Homo sapiens: one gene and its partner. The protein of the gene in region 1 interacts with the protein of each later gene in a pairwise test. Each region holds a gene or a part of one and is shown in the gene's direction. Other genes may lie near its edges.

The links.
Region 2: the proteins of SCCPDH (region 1) and PAXIP1 interact in a two-hybrid assay, tested with the Homo sapiens proteins (one large-scale study listed by BioGRID).

Annotation. Positions count from the first base shown.
Region 1 is NC_000001.11:246,727,108-246,730,925, forward strand, and holds part of SCCPDH (saccharopine dehydrogenase-like oxidoreductase), read left to right. Parts: intron 1-3,818.
Region 2 is NC_000007.14:154,971,807-154,975,624, reverse strand, and holds part of PAXIP1 (PAX-interacting protein 1), read left to right. Parts: intron 1-719; exon of another isoform or gene 720-3,818.

The DNA of each region.
Region 1 (3,818 bases):
GCCTTAACCCCATATGGGGAGTTTTTTCTTCTTGCGAGGAGCAGCTGGAGATGACCAAAGTCTCCTGAGAGAGTGAGTGACAGGCTCTCCATGACGTTCTCCTTAGGGCATGTGTGCTGGCTTGTTGATTGGTTACATCTGTGATTGTCAGAATTTTCTTTCCTTTTTACTATATACCCCTTCGGTAAAAAATGTTTGAGTGTGTCTCCCTAGTATATTTTTTATTTATAAATTATATTCTTGTACTACTGGGTAAATATATTTTTTAAATGCACAAAAAGAAGACTAAAAAACGACTCATTTATTGAATAAATATTTATTGATGCTTACCACATGTGAAATGCACTATTGTAGGCACCTGGGACACAATGGTGAACAAAACAGAAAATCCCTCGTGGACATTACGTTCTTGGGGAAGACAGAAAAATAGGATTGTAATAGGAGGTAATGAAAAGTGCTTTGAAGAAAAGTGAAGCCAAGAAAGGAGAAAAGGTCCTGGCATATTGGTGTTTTTAGATGGATGGTCAGGGAAGGTTTCTGTGAGGAATTGACATTTGAGCCAAGATCTGAATGAAATGAGAGCAAATTGCATGAACCTTTTGAGGAGAGACTTTTCCAGGGACAGCAGGCACAAAGGTCCTGAGATGCCAGTGTGCTTGGCAAGACTGAAGAGTGTGACAGAGGCCAGTGTGGCTGGGCATGGCAGAGAGGTGGAGAGTGGATCAGAGAGCAACCCGGGAGCTGGGTCATGTGGGATCTTACGGGCCATGGCCAGGATGTGGATTTTTTTTCCAGGTGTGACCAAGAGGCGTTGAATGGTTGAAAGGAAGGGCTTCAGCTGATTTAAATTGGAAGTTCTTTGGCTTCTGAGTGGAAAAGTAGATAACAAAGGATGAGCAATGGAATGGTGCAAGCACAAGCCCTGGGGTCGTAGTGGTGCTGAGAAGTAGTTAGGTCCAGAGTATATTTTCAAAGGAGAACGGCTTTTGCTGTTGTACTGTGAAAAAGTCATCAAGTCACAGGCCATCAGACTTTTGGCCTGTGTAACAAGGTGAATGTTGGTGACATTTAGTGATCTGAAGAAGCCATCACAGTTGGCAAGATGTTTAAAAATTAAATATCTAAAATATTAATAATTTTTAATTGAGAGCAAAAGGGTTTTTGAATTGCTATTAAATAGAAGTGTTGTTGATTTAGATTCATCTCATTCTTAACTAGCTTAGATTCCATCCATGAGGTCCACTGCTGCACTCTATAATGGACGCCCTCATCTATCTCCCTTGCCTTTTTCTCCTCAGTACTCTGGAAAAATCCCAGCCCTGGTTATTCTCTGCCTGCTCTTCACCTGAACATGAGTAACACAGTGTGGCTGGAGAAAAATGTATCCCCCTGCTAACTGGTCACACTTCAAATATGTGTTTACAAACGTTGTGTGGTGCTTAGCACCTCCGGCAGCTCTGCTCTATTTCCCTCAGGAATTCTCTCTCCTGCTCTCTGAAGCAGCTCACAACCTTGTTTTCCTTGAACTTTTAGTATCCCGTCTCTCTTTCCTTGTTCTTATCTGATTTTATTTTTCTTTTTTTTTAACTATGAAAATAGAAGCTGGTTAATAACAGAATTTCTTTCTTCATCTTCCTACCACCAGATCTATCTACCTACCTACCTGTCTGCCAATCTGCATCATACCCTGTAGTCTGCCATATCTCTTGTTACAAGGAAAAACTGGTCCTCTTCCTATTGGGCACAGTTTTCAAAGACTTTATTATCGGGGGAACCAGCCCCCAGTATTTCAACATAGGTTCTTTTCTATTTTCCCTAAGTGTCAGCCAGTCTGAGAAATAAAGAGAAAGAGTACAAAGAGAAATTTTACAGCTGGGCCTCTGGGGGTGACATCACTTGTTGACAGGTTCCGTGGTGCCCCTTGAGCTGCAAAACCAGCAAGTTTTTATTAGGGATTTCAAAAGGGGAGGGAGTGTACAAATAGGGAGTGGGTCACAGAGATCACATGCTTCAAAAGGCAATACGGTATCACAATGCAAATGGCAGAGCAAGATCACAAGGCCAGGGCAAAATTAGAATTACTGATGAGGTTCCATGTCCCGCTGGGCACGCACTGTCATTGATAAACATCTTAACAGGAAACAGGGTACGAGAGCAGACAACCAGTTTGACTAGAATTTGCCAGACTGGAATTTCCTAATCCTAGCAAGCCTGAGGGTGCTGCAGGAGACCAGGGTGTATTTCATCCCTTATCTTCAACTGCATAAGACAGACACTCCCAGAGCGGCCATTTTAGAGACCTCCCCCTGGGAATGCATTCCTTTCCCAGGGTTATTCCTTGCTGGGAAAAGAATTCAGTGATATTTCTCCTATTCGCTTTCTGCAAGAAGAGAAATATGACTCTCTTCTGCCCAGTCGCGCAGGCAGTCAGACATTATGGTTATCTCCCTTGTTCCCTGAAAATTGCTGTTATCCTCTTCCTTTTTTAGGATGCCCAGATTTCATATTGTTCAAAGACACATGTTTTACAGTTTGTACGGATAACTCAATCATCACAGGGTCCTGAGGCAACATACATCCTCAGCTTACAAAGATGACAGGATTAAGAGATTAAAGACAGGCATAGGAAATTATAACAGTATTGATTGGGGAAGTGATAAATGTCCATGAAATCTTCACAATTTATGTCCAGAGATTGCAGTAAAGACAGGTGTAAGAAATTATAAAAGTATTAATTTGGGGAACTAATAAATGTCCATGAAATCTTCACAGTTTATGTTCTTCTGCCGTGGCTTCAGCTGGTCCCTCTGTTCGGGGTCCCTGACTTCCTGTAACACTTTATGTTTACAATTACACATTATCTTGTTATCAAATTTCTCCTCTTTACTGGATTATTTCAATCAGCATTTAAATATGTGATATCTCCCATATTTTAAAAAAAGCTGCTTGATTCCACATACCCTTCCAACTACTCTACTTTTTGTGCCCCCTTTTTAGCAGCCTCCTTGGAAGAATTCTCATGACTCACTATCTCTGCTTCTTCACCTCCTACTCTATCTTAAACGCCTCCTATTGGGCTTTTGTTTTCCTCCCTCCTCCAATGAAACTACTCTGCTAAAGTCCCACCCTGTCAAATCCAGTCTTCATCTGAAAGCTTGCAGCATTCGATCCAGCTGACCACTTTCTCCTTTCTTTGCTCAGCTTCTACGTTGTCATCTTCTCGTAGTTTTCCTCCTGTCCACCAGCTTCACCCTGGAAGTCCTCGTCTCCTCCACTGCGTCTTTGTCCTCCCCACTCTAAATGCTTGAGGCCTCAGCGTTTAAGCTTTAGAACCTCAATAACCTCATTCAGGCATTAGGTTGCAGTAAAGTGAAAACGACTGAATGAATGAAGAGTGGTGCTGAGGCCCTCTCTGTGTGATGGAAACTTTCCCACAACCCCATCAGGATACCTGCTGTGTCCTGTCTTCAACACATGACCACTTAACATGGCCCAGGGAATGTCTCGTAGTCAGTCCATATAGTAACCGTTAACGGAACGTCATGTTTTTGTAAACATTAACATGGATAAAAGTTCTGATATTTACTTCCACCCTCAGTGGATCATTCTGCGCTTCCCTTAGGGGAAGACTACTTGGGAGACCACTGGGTTAGAAGATGGAACTTTGAGGGCCAGGCGCGGTGGGTCATGCCTGGAATCCCAAACCTCTGGGAGGCTGAGGTGGGCAGATCACTTGAGGTCGGGAGTTTGAGACCAGCCTGGCCAACATGGTGAAACCCTGTCTCTACTAAAAATACAAAAAATTAGCTGGGCATGGT
Region 2 (3,818 bases), on another chromosome or scaffold:
AGTTTATTGGTTTTGCTTTTTCAGACCAAATAACTTACAAGCAGTATTTGTGTGAGAACCTGTTTACTTGTGTGTGTGTGTGTGTGTGTGTGTGTGTGTGTATGTGTATATATGTATATTTCAGGGTCATTGAAAAAGGGTAACAGCGTATTTTAAGTTGAAGATTTAAAGCAGCTGAGTAGAACCAGGATGTCAGTGATGGAGTACTATCCGTTGAAGGGTTTCCACTCTTACTTAGTTTAAAATTAGCAATGGCAGCAAAGAGAATAATGAAGTTTACCAGCTGTACCTGATTTGCTTATAATGAACTTCATGGTAGTAAATAAATAACACAAATTCATGCATTTGTTGAGGAAGGCTTGATTTCAGGTTACAGTTTATATAGCATGGAGCTTATTGATACAGAGTGGATCTTAAGTTTTGTTGCTGGTTGTTTTTTGTTTTGTTTTTGTTTTTTTTTTTTTTTTTGAGATGGAGTCTCACTCTGTCGCCCAGGCTGGAGTGCAGTTGCATGATCTCTGCGCACTGCAACCTCCACCTCCCGGGTTCAAATGATTCTCCTGCCTCAGCCTCCCGAGTAGCTGGAATCACAGGCATGTGCCACCATGCCTGGCTAATTTTTTTTTTTTTTTTTGTATTTTTAGTAGAGACAGAGTTTCACCATGTTGGCCAGCCTGGTTTTGAACTCTTGATCTCTAGTGATCCACCCACCTCGGCCTCCCAGAATGCTGGGATTACAGGTGTGAGCCACCACGCATGGCCTTAAAAGTTTTAAGTACATATATTTCTATTTAAGACAGAAAGAAGGTAGTTGAGGTGGTATATTGGCCACTCTGCATTTTTCTGGGCACTGGAGATAAAATTGTGACTAAGAAAACTAATTTAGGTAGAGAAGACATACAGTAAGTGGAGAAATATGAACAAAAGGACTGTTGATGGTGAAAGGTGTTTCAAAGAAAATAATCAGGGTCCCGTAATAGCAGGTGAAGGGAAGGAGGCTATTTTAGACGAGATGGTCAAGAAGGACCTCGGGCAGGAGGTGACTTAGATCAGGGTTGAATGACAAGGAGAGGCCATGTGAAGAACTGAGGGCACAGAGTTCCCAGGCAAAAGGAAGACCCAAATGGCATGAATTTGCTGAGTTCTAAGAAAAGAAAGTTAATGAAATTTGAACTTCATAAGGTGAATGAGTTCTAGGAAGGATTTAAAAGGGGCCTTGCCATATAGGGCCATAGTGAGGAGTATGGTCTTTCTTGGAAGGAAGCCACTGGGCTTTTGAGTTGGGGTGAGATGCACTCTGTGTAAACAGTGGATCTTTGAGGGGCAAGAGTGAAGCAGAGAGGCCCCTTAAGAGGACATAGAGTTGGAGTTTGAGACAGAAAAAAATGAATGGGAGGATCCAGCTTTCTGGCTTGAGCGAGTGAAGGAAGATGATGCTGTTTCAGAGATAAGGAACACTGGAAAGCTGCAGGTTTGAAGAACCTAAGTTTCTTTTCAGATGTGTTGGGTTGGAGGTATCTGATCCATGCAGGGGCTGTCTGCTACGTGGTGGAACCAGAGAAAACAAGGCTGACTGAAGCTGTGGAGGCGGATGTGAGAATGTGTAGTAGGTGGGGCAGAGCAAGAGGAGGGTCTGGGGCCAGGCTCTGAGGAGCCGCACCATTGAGAGCCAGCTGGGCTGTTCCATCTGATGGTGACACCCCGTCTGCCGCTTCACCTTGTTCTGGACACTTTCATTTCATAATGACAGCTCAAAGTCCCAGAAAAATGGCTCTGTAGCATATAGGAACAACCTGAAGCCGGATCCAGTATTCTCCACATCCACTTTCAGTGGAAAGGCTTGATGTTGATGAAGTGGGGAAATTCAGTATGGCGTAGGTATAAGGTGATGTTGACAATGATCATTTTATTGGGTATGATAATAGCAGTGGTTTACGTAGTGTTTAGAAATGCTGTGGGACAGACAAAATCTTTGTCTCCCCTCCCCTCCACCTAAGCAGCGAGTATTAGTAGTACACGGTTCTTGGGATGATGACAGCGGTTGGCTGGCATCCAGAGTAAGATAGAGGCAAACATGCCCTTTAGATGTTAGACAGCAGACAGTTAAGATGGTGGGGGAGAAGGTGAGCAGAGAGAGAAGGTCATCGGGTTTGAGGAGAATAGAAGATTTTCAAATAGGTGATTCATAGATAGGGAAGACTTTGGGTTTCTGGCTTGAGAGGTGGATGCCTGATAAAATGCCGAGCTGGCCTTCCTCAAGTCCTGGGTGGTGACAGTGCCTTGTAACTGAACAGCAGCTGCCCGTTAGGAGCTCTTGGGCCTGCTTCAGTGCCCACCGCTCCATGTCACCTTGTTGGGTCCCGGAGGAAAACAGGCCTGCCACTGACCATGGGTCTTGGGGGTGGTTGGGAATGTGTGGCTGAGGAAATGGGGAGAAGGCCACCAAGATGAGGAGGTCCAAGAGCTGCAAGGCCAGGGATTGTCCAGGTGGGTGCCCATGAGAGCGCTGGGGTCAGCCGAGTTTAGGGAAAAGGTAGATGCACAGAAGGAGCCAGCTCCAGCACCGCCCAATGCTGAGGGTGCCGGCCCTGGTCCCTGCACATCCGCGTCCAGGCAGGTGGGCGGGATAAAGCCACAGGGCACAGCCTCAGCCACAGAGCAGCAAAGTGACGATCACACAGTCGTCCTGAGAGCCAGAGGATGTCATGACAGGTAGAAAGTAAAGGCCATAAAGAATGACAGGCTAGAGGCAAAGAGGATTCTAGCATTTTTGACCTCAGTCATGAGAAGAGTGATGATACTGCTGAGGTGGAGGAATTGAGAAGGTGACCCAGTCCTGGCAGGAAGACTGCGGCCACGCAGTGGACCTGTCCTGTCAGCAGTGGGATATGCGAGATATGGGCCGTAAAGATCTCTCTCATAGGGTTGGTGTGAGAAATCATGGATTAAGCCTCTGGCACTTCGAGAAATGGCTACTTTCTCACTTTCTTTAGGTGAGAAATTATGGACAGAAGTCATCCATTTGAAATAGGAAATTTTCTTTGCTTTTCATTTATCTGTGGTGTCAAAAAGTGTTGGTCAGTTACTGCTGGTTAGTTACTACTTATTTCTAATATATATGTTTTGGTTGTTTTTTGAGACAGAGTCTCACTCTGTTGCCCAGGCTGGAGTGCAGTGGTGGGATTTCTGCTCACTGCAAACTGCACCTCCCTGGTTTAGGCGATTCTCTTGCCTCAGCCTCCTGAGTAGCTGGGATTACAGGTGCCCATTACCACGCCCGGCTAATGTTTGTTCATTTTTATTAGAGACGGGTTTTTGCCATGTTGGCCAGGCTGGTCTCGAACTCCTGACTTCAGGTGATCTGCCTACCTCGGCCTCCCAAAGTGCTGGGATTATAGGTGTGAGCCACCGTGCCTGGCCTTATTATGTTTTTCAAATACAATGGATGTTGGTTTAAATATAAAGTTCCTTAAGTTTGTATTTGGATATAGAGACAAAATAATTTACTTTGAAATGGAAAGAATTGACTGCAGTAGGGAGTTTGGGCACATCTCTGCACTGGAAATTGTCCTTAGGAGACAAATTTGATATACTCAGCTGTGTGCTCTAGCGGTGGAAAACTGAGAAGGCTCCATCCATTTCTAGTGAGTGAATGGATTTGATCACTAGTGAGAAGAATTGCGGAGATTTTCTGAGAGACTTTCAGCAATGCAAGAGAACATAAGGACGTTTTACTTCTAGATGTGAAGAAAATGACTGAAACTTTAGAAATATGAGACAGATTTAGTTGAACATTAGATTGTTGGGGGGAGTGTAAC